Homo sapiens: one gene and its partners. The protein of the gene in region 3 purifies or fractionates together with the protein of the main gene of each other region. This does not show direct contact. Each region holds a gene or a part of one and is shown on either strand. Other genes may lie near its edges. The genes, in order: RGPD5, WDR81, CRYBB3, TNS4, RPAP1, NLRP2 and ARHGEF5.

Region 1 (4,220 bases), on a different chromosome or scaffold from region 3:
CCAGCACCTGAAAATCCCTTGAAATTGAGGTCTTTTTTGCCAAACTGAAATCCTTCTCCTGAAGTTGATTTTGCAACATCTGCAAATGTAAAAGTGCTACTTGTTTGGCCAAAAATCACACCACGGCCCTTCTTCCGGCCACTAATATCCTGAGCCTGGAAGCCAGTATCATTTTCAAGAGGCTTTTCCCTTTTCTTTTCTTGATTTCCTGGTTCCGAAATGCCAAATTTAAATCCATCAGCAGACACAGGGATGGAAAATCCTTCTTTGGTTGACTTAAATTCTGTATTAGAAGAACCCTGAAACATAAATGAAGGTGAATTTTCTTGATCCACATGCCCAAAATAGTCATGAAATAAATACCTTCTTCATTCCTAAACAATTTATCAAATGATGTTAACAATAATGATGATGATGATGATGATAACATTTATTGAGCATTCATTAATGTGCCAGCTGGGCACTGTTCTAAGCACTTTACATTATTATCTCATTTTAATATCCTCAAAAACCCTATGAATTAAGGTATTATTATTATCCTCATTTTACATATGAGGCAACTGATGCATTGAGAGGTTAAGAAACTTGCCTGTGGTCAAAATAAGCAGAAGAGCAAGGGTCTAAATGCACCCCAACACTCTGTCCTCAAAGCTGTCACATTCAACTACCACTGTAATATTGAGTCTTCAATCAATTGTTATATATATAGCTGTATCAGGCCTGAAAGTACTTACCACATAGTGGGTCAGCAAGGGCATTACAGTTCTATTTCTGTTAAAACAGAACGATGAAGGATCCACCACCACCACTCCCATTTTTAAAATATTCTAAATATTCACACTTACTAACACAAAAATAAGGTGACTAAGAAGGATAATTTCTGTATTTGGAGATAAATTTAAAATATCTACATTTTAAGGGACATAAAAGTTTTAATAGTGAACTGCTCTCTTGAATTTATTTGAAGGAACCCTAAACAATTTAAAAAGAAAATAATTATAAATGTATAAATTATTCCTTTGTTACCTTTGTGGGAGTAACATTAGCTGCTGGTCTGAGAAGATACTGGGAATTATATGCTGGTGACTGACTATAATATACTGAAGGGCCAGTAGTTGCAACTGAAAAAAAAAAAAGAAAAGAAAACACTGTTAAAGTCTATACTACAGTTAAGACTATCTAGGCAAGAGCTATAAATACAAAAGCAATAGAAGTTAAAGAAAGATTTAACTACATAAATTTTAAATTTCTGTACATCAAAATACACCAATCAAGATTATCAAATGACAAACTAGAAAAAAATTGCTAAATATGACATGAAGAATGAGAGAATAGCATCGCTGTGATCAACAAGAACTACCTCGCAAGCATTAAAAAAGGAATAAAGAAGATAGTAACTGTTGCCTTTTCTAAGAAAGATCAGTATGATGTGGAATTATGGACATTCAGTCACAGAAAGGACGTAAGGAACCAAGATGCCATCTGATAGTCAATGCATTTGAAGTGGGCCTAGAAAATCTGCAGAAAGACTAGGTTGTATTTTGTAAACTAAAGCTATTACTCAGAATGTTCAGCTCAAAAATCACCTGACAAATTCATGGAAAGGATGTCATAAATAACATAAAATGTGTTCCCTGGCTTAAAATAAAAAGCACATCAACACTCATACAGATGTACAAACTGTCTGCTCCCTCTGTTTGGTCTGTTTTACCAGGAAACAAAATGACTAGAAGGCACCCATGTTAATGACAAAACTACCAATAGTCATTTGCTTGAACTGTTTTATGATAGTTTTACCAGAAAACAACCAAAAGACCTTTTATGCCTGTACATGGAAGGAGAAACAGAAACTGTGCCAAGAGGTTCCAAACAATTGCCTCTGGAAAGCACTGAAAAATCAAGACCTAGAAAAGGCTAGCCAGAAGCCCAAGTTTGATTTCGGAAACCTTACAGAGGTGAGGATAGCTATTTTGAAATTACTATGGGGAGGAAGCAGGCACAGAACACAGAACAACCTGACAGAAATGGCCCAAGAATCTTAAAGTCTTGCAAGATGTCTGTCTGCATGAAAGCAAAAAGAAAAAATAAAATATTAAATAAAAAAAAATCTTAGTCTGAAGTTTAAGTAGGGACTTTAATTGACTACTGACTCTAAACTGTGCGGCTCTAATAAATCTACTAAAAGTAATCTAATTTTTTAAAGCACCATATGAATAGACAATTTAGGAAAGAAATGTTAATAGGCCTCAAGGAACATGTTTTTGAAGTGAGCCTTGAAAATCTGCAAAATGACGAGGTTGCATTGTGCAAATTGAAGCTATTATGAGAATGTTCAGGTCAAAAAAATTACCTGACAAATTCACGCACAGGATCTCACAAGGAACACAAATGTGTTCGTTGGCTTTAAAAAAATCACATTAACATTCATGTTGATATACAAAAACTCTTCTCCATCTGTTTTGTGTGAGTTTTACCAAGAAACCAAACAACTGGAAGGTACGTTGAAGATGGCAAAACTACCAACTGCCATTTGCATGAATTGTTGAGCATGACTAGTATTAAAAAAACTTAAAAATTGATATCACTTTTGTTCCTACAAATTGGCAAAGGATTTTATAAACTAGTAAGTCAGCATTAGCAAAAGTGCGAAAATGGCACTATCAGATACTAGCGGTAAGAGCATAAACTGAATATTTTGAATACCCTACAAAACTAGGACAGTGTCCTAGAATTTGTAATGGCATAAACCAGAAACAACATAAATAAAGGAACAGAATTTACAGTACTTCCATGTGATGGGATACCATGAACTCATTAATATTCAAAAAACATTTAAGTTTAAAAATGCTCAGAACTAAAGTAACATTTTAAAAACAGGCTAGCTCATCTACACACAACATAGTAACATGGTAACAATCTCATAAAAAATACTATATGTATAGAGAAAGAACCAGAAGGAAATGCTCTCAAATATAAGAAATGTTAATGAGGTGGTTAGCTTTTAGTTTTCTTCACCCTGTTCAGTACTTCTGAGTATCTCCTATGAGCTCATTAATCTTTAATTTTAATCATCTTATTTTAAAAAAACAAGGACCATCTTGATATATGTTTACTTTTATTAAGGAAAAAGAATCTATGAACACAGGAACAGAAATCAGGAGATCTTGGCTCTCGCCCTTTCAGTGCCACAAAGCTGTTTTGTGAACCTGTAAATAATCCATTTGGAGTCTCCATGTTTCTCAATTGTAAAATGACGATGTGCTGCTTCTACACATTTCACAGGGTCATTGCAAGAATAAAATGAGACAATGAGAATGTTGGATTTACATGCTTGTATAAGAACAGAAGACCTTTTATGCCTGTACACAGAAGAAATGGAAATCATGACCCACAAGGCACCAAATAACTGACTGCACACATCACTAAAAAAGCCCCAGGAAAGGCTAGCCGGTTTGTTTATCCTCTTACAAGGACCTATATGATGTGTAAGGTTTTAAGAAAACAAGGTTTGAACGTTAGACATTTCATATACTTATCTATGACTTACGACATTTAATAAGCTTGACTTCACAAAGATTTTCTGTTATTTTGCTTGTGTTGAGAAGATACTATCACAAAAGGCTAGTGGGGTTGCCTTAACTATAGGAACCATCACACAAATGTGCTCATCTAAACTAGATTTTTTTCTAAATCTTTCCTGGGCTAAAAAGAGAAAAAAAAAAAGGGCACTACTACTACCATTTCAGAAGTCTGTCGTACGTAAAAGGAACAATTTTGTTATTTCTGGCTGCCTGGGAGCAATGTATTATACTGGCAAGTGCTTTGGAGTTACACCACTGGAGTGTGAATCTCGGCTCTATCAATAACTAGCTGTATAATAATGAGTAAGTTACCTAACCTTTCTTTATCCATTTCCTTATTTATAAAAAAGGGATTAATAATGGTACCGGCCATTCTAAGTTACTGTAATTAAATCAAATTACATTCACACAGCACTTTTGCACACAGCCAACCCACAGTAAACACTATTAGTAACCTTAGTTCATTAACTGTTTACTGTATACTCTAATAAATGTCTGATACACACCCACGCCCACCTGCACATACACAAATGCTCATAGTAATTATGTAAGGCAAGTATTATCTCCACATTTCAGACAGGTTAACTTACACAGCTATTATAGTAAGTGATAGAGCAGAACTTAAAAACCCAGTATGAT
Region 2 (4,685 bases), on a different chromosome or scaffold from region 3:
GTACTCAAACAGTTGGTCCAGCTTGCCCCTCTCTGCTCCCATGGGGACTTCGGGGCCACTCATCTGCAGGAGTGTGTCCAGCACGGGCTGCAAAGACACAGGGACCTCCTTGGGGTGGCGCGTGCAGAGCCCTCGGACAGCCTGGAAGCGTACCCACAAAGGTGCATCGGGCTGCAGCGTCCGCACCCTGGTGGCAAACACCATCTCTGCCAATAGGACACCCAGCGCCTGCATGTCCCTGTGGAGTAGGCACTGCAGTGGCACAGCCGGCTGGACCCGGGGCTGCTCAGGCACCTCCAACAGGCCCCCTAGGCCTTTGGCCAAGAAGTTGCCCGTTTTCTCCAGCTCCTCCAGGGCCTGCATGGGATTGAAGCCCTCGGGAAGAAGAATCCTCCCCTCCTCACCCTCCCCAGGGTCTGCCCCAGCAGCTTTATTCCTGCGGCCTGGACGGGAGGCTGAGGCCACTGAGAAAGAGAGAAGTCCAGGGGACGCTTGACTGGAGGAGCCCAGCTGGTCACCTGCTTTCCCAGCAAGGGAAATGGAATCCAGAGCTTCTGTGGCCTGTTCCAAGTCGTCTTCTCCTGCCACCGGCCTGTCTCTGGTCCAGCTAGCCTCACAGGGAGTGGCCTCTAAAACTGGCCGGCCCACTCCATTTGGAAGCTGTCCCGGGTTTTCCGTGAAGTCCTCCCGGCCTGTGGTCTCCTGGATGGTCTGGACCAACAGCTTGGGGATGAGGGGAGGCTCGGGGGCAAGGGCAGGAGCCCCAGCCAGGCGCTGGGGGTGTGGCTGATCGAAGAGCTGCACCACCCCGTAGCTGGCCAGGTGAGTGTGGGCGTCCACCAGGTGCAGACACACATTCTTTTCCTTGACAGCCTCCTTACCCTGGAGTTTATAGCCAAACGTGAGGTCGATCCAATGGTGCAGGTCCCGGGATACCTCGCGGCTCTCCAGCAGGGCTCGGTGGGCAGCTACGAACTCCTGGCTGGAGCTGCACCAGGCTGGCACATCCAGGTCAGGCATGTCGGGGTGGATGGAGCGGAAGATAGAGGGATCGGTGTAGAACTCCGGAATGCACTCATCCGGGGTCCAGTTCTGCATCCGCTCCATGCTGGCCGGATACTCATGGGGCTCCCACTGCGCGCGGACGTGTCCGCAGAGCACCGACCGAGGCGTGCGCCGAGCCTTGTACACATAGTACGTGATGTCGGAGAGCACGTCTGAGATGTGGTGGGGAACATGAGGGGGTTCCCCGCCGCCCGCCCCGCCTGCTACGAATGCCTGCCGTGTCATCTCATACGTGAAGTCCAGTTGCTTATCCCCCTTGTTGAGGCGGAACTTGGACTTGCGCAGGTCTCGGAAGCGCCCATGGGGCGTAGTGAAGTCCACCACCCAGGGCAGCACGGGGTGGTAGTTGGGGTCCCCCTGCCGCCGACCTGCCAACCGATTCAGCTGCATGAGGTAGTGGAAGTTGCTGATGCGGCCGTGGACCCAATCTAGCACGAGGCTCCGAAGTTCCTCCTGGCCAGTGGGTTGCCCAGGTTGCCCTCCCTGCTCCTCTTGAGACACAATGCCCGCCTCATCCCTTGCCACAGGGGCCTCCTCATTCTCGTCCTCCTCGGGCCTCTCATAAGCACTCAGGTCCAGTCGCAGCTCGCTGCAAAGCTTCTCATCCACTGCGATGTGATACAAAGACAGGGCCCCACACGCCAGCCCCTGGCGGTGACAGGCGTCCATAGCCCTCAGCACGCGGAAGAGAATGAACAGCACCTTGGCCTGGCTGTTGGTCAGCTTGGCAGGGCTGAAGGTGACCACGTCATGTAGGGAGAACTGTACGTAAGGGTGTACCACATACAGCATCTCCGGCGACTCCAGCAAGGCCTCAGCCCGTAAAAGACTAGGGCAAGCAGGGCTGCCCCGAGGGGGGCAGGGGCCTTCTCTGGCATATGAAGGGCATTGGGTAGTTTCACCCACTGGCAGGAAGGAGCAACCATAGACCCTCTGCAGAGCCTGCCGTACTGAGTCCAAGGCAGGGACAGCTGAGGGGGCAGGGCTGTGACTGTACGGCTGGCCGTAAGTGTGGTATGCATGGCGCCACAGGTTGCGATAATTCTGGGCGGCAACCTCCTGCATGAAGCGAGTGAGGGTCTCAGGGCCGCAGGACCCGTCCTCAAAGGGCAGGCCCCCGCCCAGAGGGTAGGACAGTCTCCGCTTCCGCAGCCCATGCACCTCCACGCGCGTCCAGCCGGCAGGCAGCCTTTGCACAGAGCGCTGCAGGAGAGTCCTGACTTCCGCTTCTCCCAGGCCCTCTGCGCGGGGACAGGGTCCCAGGGGCAGCCGGCGATCGCGGAGGCTGGCCAGCCAGCGCGCAGGCACTAGGGCCACCACGTGGGTGCCCCCCGGGGCCGGAGCCAGCTGCCTGGGATCGATGCTCAGGTCCCTCTCCACGCTCCGGAGCAGCTCCTGCATGTCTGGGCTTGGCGGGGAATGCCAGCCCCCGGCCGGGGTTCTGAGAGCGCCTTCCCGCCCCCCGCTGCCCTGGGCCATCTCCTCCAGGCCGCCCGGGGGCAGCGCGGGGCTGAGCCCAGCCACGGCCCTGCTGGCGACGGCTTCCGGGGTGCCAGGCCGGCGGGGCTGGGATGGGCGCGGGACAGGGGCTGGGGCGGAGGCGGCCGCAGGAAGCCGGCGGCGGCGAAGAGGCGGACGGGGGGCGCGCTTACCCCTCCGCGGGTCCTGCGCTCCGGGCGCGGCGGGGCAGAGGCTGCCGGGCGCGAGCACCGGGCTCCACCGTGACGGGTCAGCTGACGCGGGTCACGTGATCGCCCCAGCACGGAAACAAGCGCACGTGGCTCCAGAGGCCCGGGCGGGACCCCGCTTCCTGCCCGGCGGCCTCCCCGCCCTCCCTCCCGCTGCTCCGCTCTGGCTCGGTCTGGGCTCCGCTTCCTCCCGGGGCTGAAAGGGTCTCCAGCCAGCTCCAGCCGGGCCCGGCGGAGGGCGATGCCTACCGCCCCACCCCTCCCTACTCCCTCCAGCACGCACCAGCGCGCGGGTCCCGGAGGCTGTTCCCAGAGATGCCAGCCTCTTAGTTAAGTGCGGACCGCACAACCAGGGGCAGAACTGGGACTTCTGTTGTGTCTATTTTTGAGACGGAGTCTTGCTCTGTCGCCCAGGCTGGAGTGCAGTGGCGCGATCTCGGCTCACCGCAACCTCTGCCTCCCGGGTTCAAGCGATTCTCTTGCCTCGGCCTCCCGAGTAGCTGGGACGTCAGGAGCGCGCCACCACGCCCGGCTAATTTTTGTATTTTTTAGTAGAGATGGGGTTTCGCCTTGTTGGCCAGGCTGATCTCGAACTCCTGGCCTCGTGATCCACCCGTCTCGGCCTCCCAAGGTGCTGGGATGACAGGCGTGAGCCACCGCGCCCGGCCAGAACTGGGACTTTTGACATGGAATCCCCCCGGCGCCTCCATGCCACCTTCCATAGGAAGGAGCTTTTTAACTTTCCTAAGTACTTCAACAGTCACATTCCATTTGGCCCTCGCAACACACTCTGTGAGGTAGGGAGGACAGTTATTACTGTTTATATTTTACAAGTGATAACCAACAACCGCCAGAGAGGCTTGTCCGCCTGGCGGAATGGAGACTTAGAAACTGGTGCCAGCCTTCTTTCTGCCCAGGAGCACTGCCTCCTGACAGCCCTCTCACGGCTTTTTAAAAAACAAAACTGGCCGGGTGCAGTGGCTCACGCCTGTAATCCCAGCACTTTGGGAGGCTGAGGCAGCTGGATCACGAGGTCAGGAGATCGAGACCATCCTGGCTAACACGGTGAAACCCCGTCTCTACTAAAAACACAAAAAATTACCTGGCCGTGGTGGGGGGCGCCTGTAGTCCCAGCTACTTGGGAAGCTGAGGCAGGAGAATGGCATGAACCCAGGAGGCAGAGCTTGCAGTGAGCCGAGATGGCGCCACTGTACTCCAACCTGGGCAACAGAGCGAGACTCCGTCAAAAAGAATAAATAAATAAATAAATAAATAAATAAATAAATAAATAAAAATAAATAAATAAAAATAAAACCAAATAAATAAATAAAAATAAATAAATAAAATAAAATAAAAATAAAACGAAACCCTGGGCTGTCTGAGGGAGAGAAGTGGCCCAGGCCCAGAGGCCTGGTGTTTTGGGGGAAGAAATGTTCCCCCAAGACTTCCTGTTGAAGATTGGCCTCTGCGGTACCACAGAGCCTGCCAGCTGTGGTCAGAGCCTCCAGATGTCACTGTGGCTGGGGGAAGGGTGCGGCACAGGATATGGAATAGAAACCAGACAGCCGGCACCAAAGCAACATGATTCCTCAAGGGGTCTTAGTTCTGACTCATCTGCAGGACAGATAGACCATTGTCTACAGTGAAACCACTGGCCCTGTTTCTTTTGTCTCCCTCTTAGGAGAGAGTTTGCCTCTTGAAGGAGTTTGGTGTACAGGTGTGAGGGTCCCATAAAGACACTTAGGAAAACTAGGCCTTGGCCGGTCACGGTGGTTCACACCTGTAATCCCAGCACTTTGGGAGGCCAAGGTGGGCGGATCATGAGGTCAGGAGTTCAAGACCAGCCCGGCCAACTTGGGGAAACTCCATCTCTACTAAAAACACAAAAAAATTAGCCGGGTGTGGCAGCGGGTGCCTGTAATCCCAGCTACT
Region 3 (3,221 bases):
TGGACTCCCCACCTGGCTCCTGCTGGACATCAGAGTTGCAATCACTAGTTTAATTGGTCTCATTGAAGTTCCTGAAGGCGTTTCCCTCCATGACCATTAGAGGGCAGTGCAGGCCCACCTCAGTGCCAGCTCCAGGCTGGAGAGATGCAGAAAGCAGAGGGTACCTCCCTCTAATGCCCAAAGGAGGGGCAGAGGCTGGAGCTGGGAGCCTAGCAGAGGTGGGATGTTTAGGACTCTGCTCTTCTAGGTGATCTTGTACGAACTAGAGAACTTCCAAGGCAAACGCTGCGAGCTCTCGGCCGAGTGCCCCAGCCTGACCGACAGCCTGCTGGAGAAGGTGGGCTCCATCCAAGTGGAGTCCGGGCCGTGAGTACCTAGACCCCCAGTCCCTCGCCACAGCCCTGAGCCTTCTGGGAGTGTGGAGGCCCCAGTCTGAGCTCTAGATCTGTTGTGGGGCTTTTGACAGCTCCCCTGCCTTCTCTGGCCTCGTTTTCCGCATCTGTAAAATGAGAGTTGAAGAATTCTCTAGAATCCTAGATGTCTGCAGAAAATCCCAGGATACCTGAGGTTGGAAGAACAGCAAGGTCAACCTAGCACCTAACTCAGTGACTGGAACATGGGATTTAATATTTATAATTTTAATAATAATTGTAACACCTAAAATTTAACATGCATTATGTCATTGAATCGTCATGACCCTGTGACAGAGGTATCATTCTTATTCCCACTTTATAGATGGGGAAACTGAGGCCAAAGTTGGTAAGTGTCCCATCCATGTCCACAAGGCAGGCAGGTCTCCCAGCTGGGCCCTGAATTCCCGCCTTTGGATTGCAAGTCCAGGCTCTGGCACTAACCATCTGGGTGATCTTCGGCAAGTTGCTTCACACACCAGGCCTCTGTTTTCTCATCTGTTGAATGGGGATAACAATGGTACGTACTTCAGAGAGAGTTTTTATGAAAATGAATGGAATGATGCAAATAAATACATATTAATAACAATACAATACAAAGAAGAGGAAAAGGAAGAGGAAGAAGTCACTGTCACCTATGGAATACTTACTGTGTACCGGGCATTGTGCTAAAGACTTTTCTGGGTACCTTGCACAGAGGCTAGATTCTCAATAACATACCCTAGGATGGTTTTCTGGCCCAGAGTCTCAGACAGTTCCCGGTATGTCCTAGCAGCTCCTTTAATTACAGGTCCAGGAATTAGCAGTAGGGTTGGAGGGAGGGTACAAGGTTCAAGGTCAGCAGCTCTTGGACACTTCTCTCACTAAACTTGAATCCTTCCTCAGCTGCAGCAAAGGTGACCCAGCCAAGCCTCTTCCTCCCTCAGGTGGCTGGCATTTGAGTCCAGGGCCTTCCGCGGGGAGCAGTTTGTTCTGGAGAAGGGGGATTATCCTCGCTGGGATGCCTGGTCCAACAGCCGTGATAGTGACAGCCTTCTGTCCCTCCGGCCTCTGAATATTGTGAGTGTGGTTCCTGCTCACTTCTGGGTGTTCCTGGAAGCAGGGTGCACTGAGAGCTGGTCAGGCAGCTCATTGCACAAGCTGGGCTGAGGGTTTGGCCCATATGGACCTGGCCTGGGAAGGGCCCTCATGTTTCTGATTTGAACAATTGTGTGGGACAAGAAGTGGGATATTGAAGGGACATTCGGTTGGGGATTGAGACACCAGGACTCACATCTTGAATTAAACCAGCATAGCACTGGGACTTTTCTTTGTAACCGTACTAAAACGATGAGCCACATGGCCCAGTCTCAAATCAGTATTGTTATCAAAGAAATGCAGTCCAGGAAATAACTTCAGAAAGTAGCCAAAATACTTTAAGTTCTCCACTTGTGTTTTTCTAGCACCTGAAAGGGACACAGTCCACAGTGACACTTTTTATTTATTTGTTTATTTATTTATTTTTCGAGACAGACTCCTGCTCTGTCACCCATGCTGGAGTGCAGTCTTTCTCTCTCTCTCTTTTTAAACATTTTTATTTATGTATTTTTATTTCATTTTGAGTTGCAGTCTCGCTCTGTCACCCAGGCTGGAGTGCAGTGGCATGATCTCTGCTCACTGCAACCTCTGCCTCCTGGGTTCAAGTGATTCTCCTGCCTCAGCCTCCTGAGTAGCTGGGACTGAAGGCACATGCCACCACGCTGGGCTAATTTTTGTATTTTTAGTAGAGGTGGCGTTTTGCCATGTTGGCAAAGCTGGTCTTGAACTTCTGGCCTCAAGTGATCTGCCTGCCTCGGCCTCCCAAAGTACTGGGATTACAGGCCTGAGCCACCACGCCCGGCCCACAGTGACACTTTAAACACCACCCTTCTCCCTCCCCTGCTTCACTCACACCCCGCAGCTGCTCCAGCCCTTTCTCTTTGTCACATAACTGAGTCCTCCTTAGAGGGCAGTGGAAGAGGGGAAACTGGGAAGATTAAACCGGCATCTGGTTAGGAAAGAGGGAAAGCTCATATGTTGATACTTTTGATCTCTGTCCACCCTCTCCTGGCCTCAGTTTCTCTATCATTTAAATGATGGGATTGAACAAGATCTGGAAATTCCTTTTCAGTTTTATAATCTACGGCTCTAGGTTCCTAAATCAACCAGCTTTGGAGGAATCTCCCCGTCCCTCCTACAGTGAATTTGGGGGTGGAGGCATCTCCTGAGGCCCTTCCCTCCTGCAGCAGGTTTGGGGGTGGGTGTTATTTTGTGGTGACCTGTTGATTCTTTCCGGCATCTGGAGCCTCCTTGACCTCTGTTCTGGATATGGGAGCAGCCGCTCACCCCACGATATTGCCCTCAGGATAGTCCACATCACAAGCTGCATCTGTTTGAGAACCCAGCTTTCAGTGGCCGCAAGATGGAGATAGTGGATGATGACGTGCCCAGCCTGTGGGCTCATGGCTTCCAGGACCGTGTGGCGAGTGTCCGTGCCATCAACGGGACGTAAGGGACCCAACCCTCACCCTTGCCCCATCTTCTGGTCAGCCATGCCTCTGGCTCCAAACAGAATCAGTGCCCATAGTTTCTTATTATTTTATTTATTTATTTATTTATTTTTGAGACGGAGTCTTGCTCTGTCGCCCAGGCTGGAGTGCAGTGGCGCGATCTCAGCTCACTGCAAGCTCCGCCTCCCGGGTTCATGCCATTCTCCTGCCTCAGCCTCCCGAGTAGCTGGGACTACAGGCGCCCACGACCACGCCCGGCTAAGTTTTTGTATTTTTAGTAGAG
Region 4 (4,728 bases), on a different chromosome or scaffold from region 3:
CTCCTTATGGTGTGACTCTGACCCTGAGTTTCCTCATCTGTGAGATGGTAATGAGAATTCCTGCACCCTCCCAGAGAGTGTTATGGAACCAGTGAGGTGCTCCTTGTGAAGGTAGTTAGGCAATTCTAAATAGTACTTAGAAATAAGGACTTATGGAGTATAACAGCCTCATAATAGTAGCTTCCATTTATTGAGCGCTGACCATGTGCCAAATAGTTTACATACGAATTACATTGGTAACTCAATCCTCTCACAGCTCTAGGAAGTACTGCACCCTATTGTCAGTCCTCTTGTTTTTTTTTCTTGAGACAAGGTGTCGCTCTGTTGCCCAGGCTAGAGTGCAGTGGCACAGTCATGGCTCACTGCAGCCTTGACCTCCTGGGGCTCAAGCGATTCTCCCAGCTCACCCTCCCGAGTAGCTGGGACTACAGGCTTGTGCCCTATACCCAGAGAATTTTTTGTAGAAAGAGGGTCTCACTTTGTTGCCCAGGCTGGTCTTGAACTCCTGGGCTCAAGTGCTCCTCCTTCCTCGGCCTCCCAAAGTGCTAGGATTACAGGTGTGAGCCGCTGTGCCTGGCCTTATTTATTTATTTTGAGTTGTCAGTCCATTTTACAGATGAAGATGCTGAGACTCGGAGAGGTCAAGAAACACGCTTCACATCCAGAAAGATGGTGGAGCTGGGATTCAAACCCAGGTGTGGGATTTTGGAATCTTAATTCCTTATGCTAAGGGAGGAGACCACCCCTCATATTGTCTTATGCCCAATTTCTGCCTCCAAAGAAAGAAAAAGTAAAAACTAAAAGGCAGAAATGAAATCCACAAGCAGACAGCCCAGCGCCACACCCTGGGCCTGGTAGTTAAAGATCGACCCCTGACCTAATCGGTTATGTTATCTATAGATTACAGACATTGTATAGAAATGCACTGTGAAAATCCCTTTCCTGTTTTGTTCCCACGTAATTACCGGTGCGTGCAGCCCCCAGTCACGTACCCCCTGCTTGCTCAATTGATCACGACCCTCTCACACGCACCCCCTTAGAGTTGTGAGCCCTTAAAAGGGACAGGAAATGCTCACTCGGGGAGCTCGGCTCTTGAGACAGGAGTCTTGCTGATGCCCCCGGCCGAATAAACCCCTTCCTTCTTTAACTTGGTGTCTGAGGAGTTTTGTCTGCGGCTCGTCCTGCTACAATGCCACATGGAATTCAAGTGCAGAGGGACACCTGGGATCTAGAGAGGGGGCATGATTGGCTGAAGGTCGCACAGGTTTCATGAGAAAAGCCAGGGCCCCTTCCCCTCTCCTGCCTCCCCCAACGCCCGTGGCTCCGGTAGGTCTGATGCCAGACTTTTCCTTGGCCAGGTCCTGCAGGGGGCGGGGCATCCCGGGCACGGGAAGCTTTCTATAAATGGAAGTGGAAGGGAGCCGGCCTCTGCGCTCCCGCCCTCCCGGGACAGCTGAGGACACAGAGCCGGAACCACGGCTTTTTCCACACAGGCTCCAAGTGGACTGGGTTTGTTGGGACAGGATCTGGGCGCTCCCTGCAGGGTTTTCTGGCTGTGTCCTGCAGAGGAGGCTGGGGCTGCTGACTTTGCAGAGCTCAAGGAGGGCTGGGTGTCCCCTCGCAACCAGGACCCAGTATACCTGCTTACTAATTTGGACACAGCTTTTGTGCCACGCTGGGCAAGCGTCCTTTCCTCTCTGGGCAGACCTCAGTTGTCCCATCTGTGTGATGGGGATGTGATAATAACAGACACTGAACACCTTGCATTTTCTCAACAGCTCTCTGAGGAGGGTGCTATTGCTGCAGGGCTGGAGAGGTTGAGGAATTTGCCCAAGGTCATACAACCCCAACTGTGAATTGGGGTTTAAACCCAGGTGGTCTTGCTCCACGGTCCCACACTTTTAGCCTCTGCTGCTGCTTCACATATTTAAGAACCCTGTCCACCGCTGCCCCTTCTGGGATTCTGGAACCAAGAGGGACAGACCTGGAGCTGAGCAAAGGGCAGGCAGCCCCTACGCTCCTCTTCAGCCTCCCCTCACTTTTAAGGCTCTGCGTCGCCCTTGGATGTACCAAGGCAGGGCTCCATCTTACTCCTGTATTCCTGAATGCTGCCCCCTTCGCGGCCCCGCACACTCCTCTAACTTGCTCTTTCTTGCTGTAAGTGGTGGGGAGAGTCCCTGGGCCCGGGGCTCTGTGTGGTTGGGAGGCACGGGGCGGGGGCAAGGAGGGCTCCAGCCACCTCTGCTCTATTTGTAGGTGCCCCCTACCCGCTCCCACTTCTGATTCTGACTCAGATCTCTTTCTTTGTTCCCAAGGACTCTGGGGAGTCCTGGTGCCTTGGCAAATCCCCTCTTCCGTGTCATTGCCAACCTCTTCTCCTGACTTACTCTCTCCCAATGAGCCCAGGTCAGTGAAGGGAGAGGGTGGGGCAAGGGTAAAGCCTGAGTCTCCCCCAAAGCACTTTGCCTCATTAGCCCAATCTCCACTGCACCCCCTATTTTTGAAAACTGGCTCCCGATCTTCCCATCCCTCCCACCCAGACCCGGTGACGCAGGACGTGGACCTCAGGCAGGGACCCATAGGACCAGTGAAGGCCAGCCGCCCCATCTCCCAGTCCTGTCTACCTCTGAAGTGCCCAGAGGGCTCCCAGAGCGCTGGGAGGCGAGAGGCCTGGGTTCTGTGTCCAGTCCCTTTCCATGACCTCAGGCAAGCCTCTTCTCTGTGGCCCTCAGCTCTCTCATCTATTTGCCGAGGGGCACAGGTTTAGTTCCCTTGAACTGCTGAACTCCGCGGTCTGTGATCCTGAGACCATCTCTGTCTCATCCACATCCTCCACCCCATTTCTCCCCACCTTCACTCTGAGCCCTGAGAAATGGAGAAGCTGAAGACAAAAGGTTAAATGAGGCTGGGCTCACGCCTGTAATTCCAGCACTTTGGGAGGCTAAGGTGGGAGGATCACCTGAGGTCAGGAGTTTGAGACCAGCCTGGCCAACATGGTGAAACCGCGTCTCTACTAAACATAAGAAAATTAGCCGGGCATGGTGGCAAACATCTGTAATCCCTGTTACTTGGGAGGCTGAGGCAGGAGAATCGCTTGAACCCTGGAGGCAGACGTTGGCAGTGAGCCGAGATCGCGCCACTGCACTCCAGCTTGGGTGACAGAGCAAGACTCCATCTCAAAAAAAAAAAAAAAAATGTTTAAATGAATCAGGGCCAGCAAAGGTGCTCCGTGTTCCTCTCTTCTTAAAGAATAAAGGCACCTACCTGGTGTCCACAGGTGGGCAGACTGTTGCCTTCACTACTGGCTCCTGGGACCAAGACGACTCAGAGTCCAGGTGAAGAGTCAGGAGAGGCGCCAGTTCACCTCCAGACCTGCCTTAAAAGCAGCTTGCCCGCCTTCTCTCCTCCCCTCCGGGCGGGCCCTGCACGTGGCCCTGACAGCAGTAGGCCCCACCCCTGCTGGATCCAGTGAGCTCAGGTGGGGCTGGCACAGGCAGCAGGAAGGGAAGCACTGGGTGGTGGGTTTTGGGTCTGGGTGTGTGTGAGGGGCTCCCAAGTTCCTGCTTGGGCTTCTCGTGGCACCACATGGCCAGGGAGTCCTTGCTTGGACAGGGCATAGCTAGAATCAAGGTGTGCAGTGGGCACTCCTCAGGTGCTGGCTGGGGCAGAGGCCATGGGTTGGCAGAGCTGGCAGAGAGTGAGGGCCTTGACAAAGCAGGATGCCAGTGGGCAGGAGACCCTCTGCAGTCCCCCTTTGTGCTGGGTCACACTGGGACAGGCACAGGGTAAGGGCCCACTGGAAGTAAGGCTAGGCACGAGCTTGTCTTTTCTTCTTTCTCTCCTTTTACAGTAATGACTCTAGCTTGGGATGGGGCCTCTAACTCAAGGAAAGGAGGCTGAAGTGTCTGGAGGGCTTTGAGAAGGGGCTTATAGCTGTTCCTTCACTCATGGGCTATCTCTGTCCCTCGTCTGGTCTGTGCCCCAGGGTGGAAGTTCCCTGAGGGGAGGACATTGGAGGGTGAGATCAGGAAGCCCAGAAGTCTGGTCTGGTAGCTCCTTCTCCATGGTTCCAACTCTCTCCCTGTTCTAGAGGGGCAGGGGTCCTAGAATGTTGTAAGGAGGTGTTCAGACATGGTGAGGGGAGGGTGCTGATGGCAGAGCCTGGTCTGGGAGCGGTCTGAAGTGAGGGAGCTGGCGAAGTCTCCAGCCCAGGGACTCATGGTGATCCCAGTAGGCTAATCTCAGGGGTGGGTTGCCCCATGCCCCCATTATGCCCAGTGGAAGGGCTTCTGGCCTTACAGTTTTTGATGCCCTGGGGTTTCACTGAGGCATGGTGAACTAGTGCATGGGAGGCCGGTGAGCAAAGCTATGGAAAGTTATATAAGGTGCCCCTTCCTGATGGTGACATAAAAGGTGTCCCTAGGTGTCCATGCAGCCTTGTTGGCACATGGCTTGATGAGCAATTATGTCTTTGGATGAAAAATGTGGTGCTCCTGCCCTGGAGTGGATGTCACTGCACATGGCGGCTTCCCCCATGAGGCTGTGGCTCATGATTGTGGGAGAGTGGGAGGGGCGACTCGTGAGTTTCTTGAGTGGAAGGGGCAGGTTACAGTAGGGCGAAGTGTTGGGCAGAGACTGTGGCAACTCCGGGGTAACCCTGGCCATCTCCCCTGGGGCTGGTATGGATAGCCTCTGCAGTGGTTCTTCAGGGCCAGGGGGTCCTCCAGC
Region 5 (4,220 bases), on a different chromosome or scaffold from region 3:
TAGGAATCTCCTGCCTTTCTACCTCCTCACCAATTCAAATTCTACCCAACCTACAGTGCCTGGGTCAATCCCCACTTCTTCCACAAAGCCCAATTTGATCTTTCCCTTCTCTGAATCCTGATACCACCTAGCATCTGAATAATTCACAACTATGTAGGTTTTCAGTAAATCTCTTCTTATCTAGATTGTAGCACTGATAAGCAAGGAGCTATGCCTTATTAATAGTAATGAATACCCACTATATGCCAGACACCAGGTTAAACCCTTTCCTTTTTTCTTTTTTGAGACAGGGTCTTGCTCTGTCACTGGGCTGGGGTGCAGTGGCGCGATCTCGGCTCACTGTAGCCTCCGCTTCCCGGGTTCAAGCGATTCTCCTGCCTCAGCCTCCTGAGTAGCTGGGACTACAGGCACCCGCAACCACGCCCAGCTAAGTTTTGTATTTTTAGTAGAAATGGGGTTTCACTATGTTGCCCAGGCTGGTCTCAAACTCCTGACCTTAAGTGATCCACCCACCTCAGCTTCCCAGAGTGATGGAATTACAGGCGTGAGCCACCACACCCAGCCCATGTTAAGCCCTTTTCATTGATTCTCTTAATCCCCTCAAAGCCCCCAAGAGGTAAGATGAGGAAGCTGAGGTCTTCCAAAGCTCCTCAAGGCTCAGGACTGCCCCCGAGGCCCAGTGCAGGGTACCCTTGCAGGTCCTGCTGGGCTGAGAAAGTACCTGGGTCAGAGGCAGGCTCAGAGCTCGCAAGGCTCCCACGTGTTCCCCAAAGAGGGCAAGGCGCAAGGTGACACTGAACCGACGCTGCAGGGGCAGGAGGACCAGGGCCCCAAAGAGGTGGTCCCCAAAAGAGACAGCCTCAAAATGATCCAGGAAGTTGGCATAGAGGTCAGGGAAAGACGTCAGGCCAGGGAGTCGGCAGTCCAGGTTGAGGTTTGGCAAGACTTGAGGCTGACAGAGCTGGGCGAGGAGGGCTGCCACCAGATGCTGTACTGGGGACTCCCGGAACAGCTCACTGTCCACCAGGAACACACACATGAGCCGTGCCAGGCGGGCAGCAGGGGGCACAGCCCAGAGAGCCTGGGGGCGCCAGCTCTCCAAAACTAGCACCCACTGCAGGACCCGCATGGCTGTGCCCATGGTGTCTGTGGGAGAGAGTCCCGAGGGGGTGTCTGAAGCCCGGTGGTAGAGGCGAATCAGTGGCAGGAAGGGCCAGTCGGTGGGCAGCAGCGGCTCCGTAGGCATGGGCAGTAGCAGGGTTGGGACTCGCTGTAGCTCCCCTCGGTGCAGAGCCTGGGAGGCCAGCAGACTGGCTCGGGCTGGCGAGCAATGAGTCAGGTAGCAGTTGCGGATGCTGGGGAGGTCCTGGCAGGCCTGAGCCAGCAGAGTCCCTTGCCCACACCGAGGGACCCTGCTGCTTCCTAACGACAGCTGGTCAGAGAAGTCGGCTGCCTCTGGACCCCCTGATGTTCTTTCCCTGTAATGGGACCCAAAAGCCAAAAATGAGGGCTGGAACCACAGCACTTGGAGGCTGTGCCAGCTCTTTGGAACTTCCTGGAGGCTCCTAGGTCCAGACCTGTGCCTCTCTGCTCCCTTAACTACTTCCCGCGCAGTGCTGTGTAGCAGTTAAGAGGATGCACACTACAGCCAGCTGCCTAGGCATGAGTTTACATAACTTCTCTGGGCCTCAGTTTCCTCAGAGTAAAATAAGGATAATAATAGTATCTATCTCATGGTCCAAGTAAAATACTTAAAATGTAGATAAATACATAAGGGAGTATCAAACACAGAGTAAACACTCAGTAGCGGATGGCTATTACATGTGTGTAACTGATTTAGATACCATTTTTTTAGCCATGCAGTCACACTGAAGTCTCACAATCATTCTTGGGTGTGGTTAGCCTGATCCTCACTTCACTAATGAGGTAATGGAAGCTCGGAAGAGTTAAGTGTCGTCGGTGGAAGAAAGAGAATTTAGGTCTCCTGGCTCCAAATTCAGGGCTGCTCTGTTAACAACTGCAGCAGCGTCCAAAAGGGCTGAGTTGATGCCACCAACCAAGCACTTACGGGAGGAACTCCAGCCGGAATACACAGCTCAGCAGCAGCTCATGGGTGAGGTACTCACTTCCGGGCAGCAGCCGGCTCAGCAGGGCCAAGGCCATACCATGATAGAGGGCAGCATGGGTGGCTGGCAGTGGCTGCAGCGCTGCCTGCAGACAGAAAAGCAGGGAACTACCTAGTACAGGAGAAGGGGACGTGGCAGAGAGAAGTGAGGAAGAGGATAAAAGTGAGGCTGAAGGGCAGAGGTCCAGGGCATGTCTGGAGGAAAGTGGGAGCTGCATGGCCTGGCAGAAGCAGGCTGGGTTCCACAGAAACAGGAAGGAGATAATGGGATGACAGGAGAACCTGTCAGACAGGGGGACCTACCGCTTTCTGGGCCAGAGCGAGTGCCAGGTACTGCAGGTGGTACTCATGGCGCAGGGCCCATGCAGAGAAAGGTGTGAGGTGTGGGGCAGCCCCAGGAGCCACACACTGGAGGAAGTAATTCTGGAGTCCCGGGGCAGCCAATATGGCAGCCAGCTGAGGAAAAGCAATTTTGTTCAGATCTAGAAATTGACTCTCATGCCTTCTAGGGCTCCCCAGGTGGCTGCCCCTCTCCAGACTCAGGGAAATGAGTGCCAGCAGAAGGCCTCCCTTCCCCATGGGACACCCTCCCACTTTCTTTTTGGTTTTTTTTGAGATGGAGTTTCGCTCTTGTTGCCCAGGCTGCAGTGCAATGGTGTGATCTCAGCTCACCGCAGCCTCCGCCTCCCGGGTTCAAGTGATTCTCCTGCCTCAGCCTCCCGAGTAGCTGGGATTACAGGCATGTGCCATCATGCCTGGCTAATTTTGTATTTTTAGTAGAGATGGGGTTTCTCCATGTTGGCCAGGCTGGTCTCGAACTCCCGACCTCAGGTGATCTGCCCACCTCGGCCTCCCAAACTGCTGGGATTACAGGCGTGAGCCACCGCGCCCATCCCACCCTCCCACTTTCTTTCTGATTCCTGCCATCTTGGCCCCTTGCCTGGCCCCTAATCAGGCACCCCACACTTACCTGGCCACACAGCCCCTTGTGGATCTGGGCCAGGGTATTAAGAAGAGAGAGGAGGGCAGTGAGGAATGGGAAGGGTGAGGCTGAGCCAGCCAGACTGAGACGGGGGCAGCCTCCCGAGCAGCCCAGTGACACGAGGCTGGGGGGAGCTTCAAGGGCTGGCACACAGGACAGCGGGTTGCAGAGAAGGGAGCAGTGCCTGTAGGTGAAGTGGAGAGTCTGAGGGGGACTCTGGCCTGGCGTGTGCCAAGCTGGAAAGAGCTTCTGGGTCTGTACCTAAGACTAACGGGGGGCCTGGCTGTGGAGGTCAGTGCTGCTCACACTCCTCAGAGCCCACCCCACTGCTGCCTGCTAGGGACTCGGGTTTCCCTCGGGCCGAGGGCCTGCACCCTGGGATGGACCTGGGAGCTGGACCCAGGAATCCCACAAGGAAAGAAATTGCCTCCTCCCCTGCTTCCCCCAGCTACCAAACACAGTACATACCTAAGGGAATCCCACAGGCTGCCCAGTGTGGGCTGACTCAGCAGTGGCAGCAGCAGCTCCTCTGACAGGCGCTGCATGTCCTGGAGCCAATCCTCCGGGCATGAGCTTGGCTGGTGGACCAAGGAATTCACTGAGCTGATGGCCCAGCCATTCATTCTCCTAGACCCTGTGTACCCAGGCCAATGCCACCATCCCAACAGCCCAAAAGAGCACATTTGGAGGCTTCTGCAGGCTGAGCCTTCTGAAGGGAGAGAAGGCCCCGATGTGTAGGGGGCATAAAGAGGGAGCACACAGGCTACAGGAAGGCTGAGCTGCTGCGTGGGCTCTCTGGTCCCCACCAACATGGCTCCTGGGAAGCTCCACGGGGATATGGAGGTAGAAAGAGGAGGAAGGGTAGGAATTAAAAGGGAAGATAGTAAATGGGGAAGTAGGAGTGGAGAGATGGACACAGAGAGGGAGCAACGGGTGGAATGTAGCTGAAGGCAGGGTGCGGGGGCCTGGTGGACAGCCGGCAGGAGGCACTCACTTGCTGGCTCCAGGCCTGGTAGTAGGCTCCCAGGAACAACAGGCAGGCAACGGGCACTGGGCCCACGGCTCTCCACATCTCAGGTCTGGACAGCAACTTCAAGGTCTGCCTTAGACACG
Region 6 (4,220 bases), on a different chromosome or scaffold from region 3:
CGCCCGGCTAATTTTTGTGCATTTAGTGGAGCTGGTTTCGCCACATTGCCAGGCTGGTCTCGAACTCATGACCTCAGGTGACCTGCCCTCCTCAGGCTCCCAAAGTGCTGGGATTATAGGCATGAGCCACCATGCCCAGCCAGAGTCCTTATGTTTTGGTTTTGGTTTTGGTTTTTTCTTTTTCTTTTTTCTTTTTGAGATGGAGTCTCGCTCTGTCACCCAGGCTGGAGTGCGTTGGTATGATCTCAGGTCACTGCAGCCTCCACCTCCCAGGTTCAAGTGATTCTCCTGCCTCAGCCTCCTGAGTAGCTGGGATTACAGGTGCACACCACCACACCTGGTTAATTTTTGTATTATTAGTAGAGATGGAGTTTTACCACATTGGCCAGGCTGGTCTCGAACTCATGACCTCAGGTGATCTACCCCCCCACCCCCACCCCACCCCGCCGTCGGCCTCCCAAAGTGAGGCATGAGCCACCGTGCCCAGCCCAGAATCTTTATCTTCTATCAGAGATCATTCACTCATGGTTCATGCTTCTCCTGTATGATGATTCAGAATACCAGCTATTGACATTTTTCAAGCAAGAACCCTTCAGGAACATCAAGTTGCCCCTTTTCTGTTAGTCCTCTGGTTTGAGAGCTCTCCCCTTGGGAAGCTGTCCAGTGGCTGCCCAGGCGATGAGAACCTACATGCATCATGGGGTTCCATGAAGCCTCACTTGGCCACACTGGTGTAGTAGGTGGTCATTGGCCTCAAATTATTGCCCTGGGCCAGGCGCAGTGGCTCACGCCTGGGAGGCCGAGGTGGGTGGATCACTTGAGGTCAGGAGTTCAAGACCGGCCTGGTCAACATGGTGAAACTCTGTCTCTACTAATAATACAAAAATTAGCTGGGCATGTTGGCGCACGCCTGTAGTCCCAGCTACTCAGGAGGCTGAGGCAGGAGCATCATTTGAACCTGAGAGGCGGAGGTTGCAGTGAGCTGAGATCACACCACCGCACTCCAGTCTGGGCAACAGTGTGAGACTGTCTCAAAAAAAAAAAAAAAAATCTTGGCTGGGTGCGGTAGCTCATGCCTGTAATCCCAGCACTTTGGGAGGCCAAGGCAGGTGGATCACAAGGTCAGGAGTTCAAGACCAGCCTGGCCAACATGGTGAAACCCCACGTCTACTAAAAATACAAAAACATTAGCTGGGCATGGTGGCGCGTGCCTGTAATCCCAGCTACTCATGGAGGCTGATGCAAGAGAATTGCTTGAACCTAGGAGGCAGAGGTAGCAGTGAGCCAAGATCACGCCATTGCACTCCAGCCTGGGCAACAGAGCAAAACTCCATCTCGAGGACAGAAAAAAAATTGATTGCTCTGGCTCTACTGATACAATCTTAGGCTGCTTAATGGGATCTTAGTTGAATAGGATGCTGTACATCTTACAGGTATTGGAAGGTTGAATGAAACCAAGCCCATGCATTCAATAGTGGCTGCTATCATTACTAACCGTTGCAATTACCCTCTTTTCTTTTTGCCTGAGAATAATGGGATGCAGGGTGAGGGGGAATATTGGGTGAATTAAAGATTTGGGTCACTAATTTCTTTCTTTTTTTCTCAAGATATAGTCTTGCTCTGTCTCCTAGGCTGGAGTGCAGTGCCACAATCTTGGTTCACTGCAACCTCTGCCTCCCGGGTTCAAGTGATTCTTCTCCGTCAACCTCCCAAGTAGCTGGGATTACAGGCACCCACCTGTATTTTTGTATTTCTAGTATTTTGTATTTCTAGTAGAGACAGGGTTACGCCATGCTGGTGGCCAGGGTGGTCTCAAACTCCTGACCTCGGGCAATCCACCACACCCAGCTAATTTTTGGTATATTTAGTAGAGCCGGGGTTTCACCGTGTTGGCTGGGCTGGTCTCGAACTCCTGACCTCAAGTGACATCCATCTTCCAAAATGCTGGGATTACAGCCATGTGCCACCACGCCCAGCTAATTCTTGTATTTTTAGGAGAAATGGGGTTTCATCATGTTGTTCCGGCTGGTCTTAAACTCCTGGCCTCATGATCCACCTGCCTTGGCCTGCCAAAGTCCTGGGATTACAGGCATGAGCCACTGTGCCCAGCCACTCATTTCTTATGAATTTATTCTAACACATTTTCCGGATGAACAGGGCACCTTGAAACATAGGTTAGTGGGCTGGGTATGGTGGCTCCTGCCTGTAATCCCAGTACTTTGGGAGGCCTAGGCTGGTGTATCGCTTGAAGTCAGGAGTTTTTTGTTTTGAGACGGAGTCTTGCTCTGTCGCCCAGGCTAGAGTGCAGTGGAGTGATCTCGGCTTACTGCAACCTCCGCCTCCTGGGTTCAAGTGATTCTCTTGCCTCAGCCTCCTGAGTAGCTGGGACTACAGGCACGTGTCGCCACGCCCATCTAACTTTTGTATGTTTAGTAGAGCCGGGGTTTCACCATGTTGGCCAGGATGGTCTCAAACTCCTGACCTCCTGATCTGCCCACCTCGGCCTCCCAAAGTGCTGGGATTACAGGCATGAGCCATTGCCCCGGCCAAAGTTAGGAGTTTGAGACCAGCCTGGCCAACATGGTAAAACCCCATCTCTACTAAAAAATACAAAAATTAGCCAGGCAAGATGGCATTTGCCTGTAATCCCAGCTACTCAGGAGGCTGAGGCGGGAGAATCTCTTGAATCTGGGAGGCAGAGGTTGCTGTGAGCTGAGATCGCGCCACTACACTCCAGCCAGGGCGACAGAGCATAAATAACTCCCTTTCAAAAAACCAAACAATGAAACATAGGTTAGCGGAGTCTGCATCCAACATTAGAGTCAGATTGACTAAGTTCTGTATTTCCAGCTGATTCCTGGGCGATGTTGGTGCCACTGGTCTGACCACCCTTTGACAACTGCTGCTCCAGATAATTCAAGTCGGGGTATAACACAACCAGTGAGATGTAAACCAAAGACGATTCCACGGTTAGATTCTCAAGAATGACTTGTTCTGCCGGGCGCGGTGGCTCACGCCTGTCATCCCAGCACTCTGGGAGGCCGAGGTGGGCAGATCACCTGAGATTGGGAGTTTGAGACCAGCCTGACCAACATGGAGAGACCCCCACCTCTACTGAAAATACAAAATTAGCTGGGCATGTTGGTGCATGGTGCATGCCTGCAGTCCCAGCTACTCGGGAGGCTGAGGCAGGAGAATCACTTGAACCCAGGAGGCGGAGGTTGCTGTGAGCCGAGATTGCGCCACCTGGGCAACAAGAGTGAGACTCAGTCTCAAAAAAAAAAAAAAAATGACGTGGTCCTATTTCTCCCACAGGTTGGTGTCTTGTTCCGCTACCACTCAGCAGTGGGCTGATCTCTCCTTGGCCCTTGAAGTCAACCAGTCCCTGACGTGCGTAAACCTCTCCGACAATGAGCTTCTGGATGAGGGTGCTAAGTTGCTGTACACAACTTTGAGACACCCCAAGTGCTTTCTGCAGAGGTTGTCGTAAGTCTCTCCTCTCTTACAGAGCAGCTGTGCTTTCGATCTGGGGCCACAGACGAGCAATGGTCATGCCTGACTTGGCTGTATGGAACCTCTCGCTGATGTGAACACCTGTTCCCATGTTTAGATCCAGGCCGATGGCCTGTGAATTTTGTTCTTCTCTCATTCCTATTCCTTCATAGGATCACCAGTGCATGATAGAAGGTGGGGAGTTCACAAGAAGGGGCTTTTGGATGCTGGCACTTGTGGAGCTAGCCGGGAAGGTTGAAGTTGGACCTGTCAACCGTGTTGCCATTTGTGATTCTTTTGTAGGTTGGAAAACTGTCACCTTACAGAAGCCAATTGCAAGGACCTTGCTGCTGTGTTGGTTGTCAGCCGGGAGCTGACACACCTGTGCTTGGCCAAGAACCCCATTGGGAATACAGGGGTGAAGTTTCTGTGTGAGGGCTTGAGGTACCCCGAGTGTAAACTGCAGACCTTGGTGTAAGTCCGTGCTGGCTGCCTGTGTGCGTGGGTGTATATGCACACGCCCCCCACCTCCGGGTTTGAGTAGGGTGGTTATGAGAACACTTAATTCCTCTAAAAGTTCCAAGCATGATGCTAATGACAACTGGTAAGACCTGGGTAGATGATGGTAGGAAAAAAGTATAAGTAGTAGTAGAGTAGTAGTAATATTCTATAGGGATTTGGGGAATGTAGCTGGTTTTCGGGTTTTTTTTTTCCTCTTTATGTATGTA
Region 7 (4,220 bases), on a different chromosome or scaffold from region 3:
TGACCTCCCTTCCCCGCACCTTCACTGCATCCCCCATTGCTCCCCATATCCCCCCTCCCCTAAGGCTCACTCTCCGTGCAGGAATAGCAACAGCAATTTCCGGGAGGTCTTGGAGAAGCTGGAGAGCGACCCCGTCTGCCAGCGCCTTTCCCTCAAGTCCTTTCTGATTCTGCCCTTCCAACGCATCACCCGCCTCAAACTGCTGCTCCAGGTAGGGCAGATGCTACCTTGATCCTCTCCCCTTAACTCAAAGGGATGCCCTCAGGAAGACCCACAACAAAGGACCAACCATTCTTCTGCCAGGTGTCCACATCCTGTCTCCCTGCTGCCCACTGCCTGCTTGCTTGGAAATATTTGCTGCTAAAATGTGGTCCCTGGGCTTCTCCATTCACCAGCCCCCAATCATTTCTTCCTGTTTCCCATTTCTTCCTCCCATCTCACTCCTGCCTACTGTCTGTTCAATAGAACATTCTGAAGAGAACACAGCCTGGCTCCTCGGAGGAGGCAGAGGCCACGAAGGCACACCACGCCCTGGAGCAGGTAGGCAGCCACCACCTCCACTCTGACCCTCTGTGTGTTCTTCTCAGAGAGGTCTTTCCCACCTAGGCCCATGACTCCAGGGAGCATGGGAGGTGGGACCCTGTTGGGAGAGCTCAGCCACCTCCCTGCATCCGCCAAACTTCCAAACATACACACCCCACGGCCACCTCTCCCACGCCGAGCACACTCCACATCAAGGGACTGTGCCCTCTCCACCATCACCCCCCCATTCAGTCTCACTTTTACTCAGTTCAGGAATGTTCTGCCAAGTCATACAAAGTTGCCTAGGACTTGTGCTTGATACTGCCTGCCCAATTCCAGCCTGGGAAAAATGACTGAGGCTGTCATAACCTATTTCCAGATTGCTTGCAAGGGACTCAAAGGTCAAAGCCTCTAACACAGTGCCCTTCCCCTTTCCTCACTCTCTGCACCCCTAGCTGATCCGGGACTGCAATAACAATGTCCAGAGTATGCGACGGACAGAGGAACTAATCTACCTGAGCCAGAAGATTGAGTTTGAGTGCAAAGTGAGTCGGTCCCATGCACCCCATCCCTGCCCATGAACTCCCTTAACATGTCCTGCAGATCACCCCCTAACCTGGAACCACCTTGCTCACATTATCCCCAGCCCCTCCCCTCATTTCTGCCCACCTTCTATTCTGTCCTATTTCTGGGAGGCCTACTTGGGTCTCCAAGACATACTGCTAAGTGAAATGATGAAGGTAAAGAATTGTGTGTATATTATATCACCTTTGGTATAAAAGTGGGAGGATACAAATCTATACAGGTGTCTGCTTGTGTGTGCATAAGGAAACTCTGGAAGGAGAACAAGAAAAAAAGGAACAGTGGTTACCTGAGGACAAGGGGGGTGCATTTGAGAAATGGGCAAATGAGAGAGAACTTTTCAGGATGAGCCTTTATAAAAGAATGTTTTGGTGCTTGATTCATTTATTACTTTATCAAATCTCTTTCTAGTCTAATCAAACCCACATAAGATTGGATCCAAATTTAGAGCCAGCATCCCTCATTGAAATACAAATCTAAAATAGACATTCCACATTCAAATTCCAACTTAGAACAGATACTATCTTTTTTTTTTTTTTGACAGAGTCTCACTCTGTCGCCCCAGGCTAGAGTGCAGTGGTGCGATCTTGGCTCACTGCAACCTCCACCTCCCAGGTTCAAGCGATTCTCATGCCTTGGCCTCCCGAGTAGCTGGGATTCCAGGTCTGCACCACCATGTCTGGCTAATTTTAGTATTTTTAGTAGAGATGGGGTTTCACCATGTTGGCCAAGCTGATCTCCAACTCGTAGCCTCAAGTGATCCACCCACCTCTGCCTTCCAAAGTGCTGGGATTATAGGCGTGAGCCACCACGCTCGTGCTTAGAACACATACTATCTTTACACTCCTGAAAAAGAAGGAAAATCCCTTATTCACATACTAAGCATAGACCACACCCTCATCTTTAACCAAATTCCAGCTCCAAGACGCCCCACCTAGTTCTTCTCACCCCCATGTTTGATTCCAGCTGCTCACATATCTCTGGTATAAAAAATGGAATTGATACCAGACCTGCCTCTAATATTTTATTTTAACCTCTAAGACACATATAGTGTTCACTGACTTGTTCCATCACATACCCTGATTGGACTCTTCCATCCCTCCTTCAGTTCAGGCTTCTAGGGCAGAGCTGTCCCACACACTCACTATCCTGAGTTGGACCATAGGCATCTTCTATTTACCTGAGCATACAACCATGGGAGCCACACACCAGTGGACAGTGGTAGTTAGAGGGTTCAGAGAGAAAGAGAATCTAAGTGATGGGTTATGAGCCAGAAGGCAGATGTGGAAGAGATGCTTGTTCAAGTGGAACTTGCATGGAAGTGGCATGGGGAGGAGGGTGGGACTGGGAGCAAACCTCATGCTTCTCCCATCTGTGACACTGCCTTCTCTCTCTTCCTCTGCCCTGTAGATATTCCCGCTCATTTCTCAGTCACGCTGGCTGGTGAAAAGTGGGGAGCTGACAGCCTTGGAGTTCAGTGCTTCCCCAGGGCTACGAAGGAAGCTGAACACGCGTCCAGTCCACCTGCACCTCTTCAATGACTGTCTGCTGCTGTCTCGGCCCCGAGAGTCAGTGACTGGAGTGGCAGGCCAGGGCACAAGAGGGGAAGGGGATGAGGAAAGAGGGGGGTCTGAAAGGGAGAGAGAAGGGTCATGTTCCTAGAAGAGCCCTTCTCAATGGCTTAACCCATAGAGCCCAGGTCATAGCCTAGAGAAGAGAAAAACAAGCCCAAAGCAAAAAGGGGATCCCATCAAACTGTATCATGAGACCACATAGCAGGACATGTAATATGGTATAGACACAGAGCAAAATGTAGCAAATTAGCTTATCACATTCTCACATGAGTCTATTTGTGGCTTCTTTGGACTGGCCTCAACCTGCTATTCTAGAGATACTTAGCTAATTCCAGAGCTTAAGTCTCTGGTCTTAAGGTTCTTGGGAAATGTATATAAATTCCATCTCTTCACCTCTTTAAAGTGGTAATGTATCCACTGCACTAGGTGTGTGGTTTGCCAGACTAGGACAAATCCCTGAGGACCCTGGAGCTACCATCTTGGGAGCAAGTTAGGACCATCTTATGGTTTTTGTGGGAATTTGCAGGCTGTAGATGTAGGGATTTCGAACCCAAGGTTATGAGGGTAGGTGAAGTATGGAAACTCTAGAATCAGGTTGAAAAGATTTGTATTTTGCAGGGGTAGCCGATTCCTGGTATTTGACCATGCTCCCTTCTCCTCCATTCGGGGGGAAAAGTGTGAAATGAAGCTACATGGACCTCACAAAAACCTGTTCCGACTCTTTCTGCGGCAGAACACTCAGGGCGCCCAGGCCGAGTTCCTCTTCCGCACGGAGACTCAGTGAGATGGGGCTGGGCAGAGGAGCTGGGGGTGGGGGAAGATGGGCAGCCGAGAAAAGAAGTGAGACCAAGGCAGAAAATGTGTCCAGAAGACAGCCACAGCCTCATTTAGCCCATTCTGGACTGGGGACCACCATAGAGAAATTCAGACTCCTAAAACTAATGGATAACTTGCAGGAGATTGGGGTGGGAGAGGGTACAAAGTCACCACCGAGGCTTAGCATCTATTTTATACTCTTTACTCAAGAGGGACAAGGTCTGTGTAGTATCAGAAAGGAGAAGGACTGGTATGGAGTGAGCAAGGAATTGGAATACTGGTATCTGTGAGCACATGCCTCCATGCCTGAGGCAGAAACCCTTCTATGCCCCAGCTGGTGGGCACAGATGTGAATAAGACAAGTGCTGGGTGACTTTTACTTTCTGTGCTCCCATCTTCCAAACCAGTCCTCTATTGACCAGAAATCCATAGTGTTGAGAATGCTGATTTGCTCATGTTTTCAATAATAATAAAATAAAATACATTCACACAGACATACATTTTTGAGAGTATTAATAGTACCTATAAAATCTGGAACACAGTGCCTGCAATAATGAACATGTAAAAGCCTGTAGCTGTTATTGCTATTATAAAAGATATATGAACAGTCATTTAAAAGTTTGACGTATCTAAGTGTTTGAGGATCCCTATGTTGTAGACACTTTTTCAGTTTTGTCCCTTGGAAGATACTTCAGAGTGGGACCGATAACACCTGTTCTCATTTAT

Evidence for each region.
Region 1: the proteins of CRYBB3 (region 3) and RGPD5 purify together in Homo sapiens (affinity purification with mass spectrometry, with the first as the bait; one large-scale study listed by BioGRID). This does not show direct contact.
Region 2: the proteins of CRYBB3 (region 3) and WDR81 purify together in Homo sapiens (co-immunoprecipitation; one large-scale study listed by IntAct). This does not show direct contact.
Region 4: the proteins of CRYBB3 (region 3) and TNS4 purify together in Homo sapiens (affinity purification with mass spectrometry; one large-scale study listed by BioGRID and IntAct). This does not show direct contact.
Region 5: the proteins of CRYBB3 (region 3) and RPAP1 purify together in Homo sapiens (affinity purification with mass spectrometry; one large-scale study listed by BioGRID and IntAct). This does not show direct contact.
Region 6: the proteins of CRYBB3 (region 3) and NLRP2 purify together in Homo sapiens (affinity purification with mass spectrometry; one large-scale study listed by BioGRID and IntAct). This does not show direct contact.
Region 7: the proteins of CRYBB3 (region 3) and ARHGEF5 purify together in Homo sapiens (affinity purification with mass spectrometry; one large-scale study listed by BioGRID and IntAct). This does not show direct contact.

Annotation. Positions count from the first base shown.
Region 1 is NC_000002.12:109,831,898-109,836,117, reverse strand, and holds part of RGPD5 (RANBP2-like and GRIP domain-containing protein 5/6), read right to left. Parts: intron 3,268-4,220; coding exon of another isoform or gene 3,155-3,267; exon of another isoform or gene 3,099-3,154; intron 1,122-3,098; coding exon 1,027-1,121; intron 300-1,026; coding exon 1-299.
Region 2 is NC_000017.11:1,722,819-1,727,503, reverse strand, and holds the start of WDR81 (WD repeat-containing protein 81), read right to left. Parts: upstream 2,801-4,685; 5' UTR 2,545-2,800; coding exon 1-2,544. UniProt on the Homo sapiens protein: Functions as a negative regulator of the PI3 kinase/PI3K activity associated with endosomal membranes via BECN1, a core subunit of the PI3K complex.
Region 3 is NC_000022.11:25,202,427-25,205,647, forward strand, and holds part of CRYBB3 (beta-crystallin B3), read left to right. Parts: intron 1-247; coding exon 248-366; intron 367-1,336; coding exon 1,337-1,469; intron 1,470-2,793; coding exon 2,794-2,936; intron 2,937-3,221. UniProt on the Homo sapiens protein: Crystallins are the dominant structural components of the vertebrate eye lens.
Region 4 is NC_000017.11:40,498,270-40,502,997, forward strand, and holds the start of TNS4 (tensin-4 precursor), read right to left. Parts: upstream 3,355-4,728; 5' UTR 3,265-3,354; intron 1-3,264. UniProt on the Homo sapiens protein: Promotes EGF-induced cell migration by displacing tensin TNS3 from the cytoplasmic tail of integrin ITGB1 which results in dissociation of TNS3 from focal adhesions, disassembly of actin stress fibers and initiation of cell migration.
Region 5 is NC_000015.10:41,519,670-41,523,889, forward strand, and holds part of RPAP1 (RNA polymerase II-associated protein 1), read right to left. Parts: coding exon 4,102-4,220; intron 3,686-4,101; coding exon 3,576-3,685; intron 3,292-3,575; coding exon 3,096-3,291; intron 2,582-3,095; coding exon 2,429-2,581; intron 2,212-2,428; coding exon 2,069-2,211; intron 1,479-2,068; coding exon 722-1,478; intron 1-721. UniProt on the Homo sapiens protein: Forms an interface between the RNA polymerase II enzyme and chaperone/scaffolding protein, suggesting that it is required to connect RNA polymerase II to regulators of protein complex formation.
Region 6 is NC_000019.10:54,986,707-54,990,926, forward strand, and holds part of NLRP2 (NACHT, LRR and PYD domains-containing protein 2), read left to right. Parts: intron 1-3,315; coding exon 3,316-3,486; exon of another isoform or gene 3,487-3,687; intron 3,688-3,795; coding exon 3,796-3,966; intron 3,967-4,220. UniProt on the Homo sapiens protein: Suppresses TNF- and CD40-induced NFKB1 activity at the level of the IKK complex, by inhibiting NFKBIA degradation induced by TNF. When associated with PYCARD, activates CASP1, leading to the secretion of mature pro-inflammatory cytokine IL1B.
Region 7 is NC_000007.14:144,372,218-144,376,437, forward strand, and holds part of ARHGEF5 (rho guanine nucleotide exchange factor 5), read left to right. Parts: intron 1-81; coding exon 82-211; intron 212-465; coding exon 466-540; intron 541-977; coding exon 978-1,067; intron 1,068-2,514; coding exon 2,515-2,672; intron 2,673-3,296; coding exon 3,297-3,458; intron 3,459-4,220. UniProt on the Homo sapiens protein: Guanine nucleotide exchange factor which activates Rho GTPases. Strongly activates RHOA. Also strongly activates RHOB, weakly activates RHOC and RHOG and shows no effect on RHOD, RHOV, RHOQ or RAC1.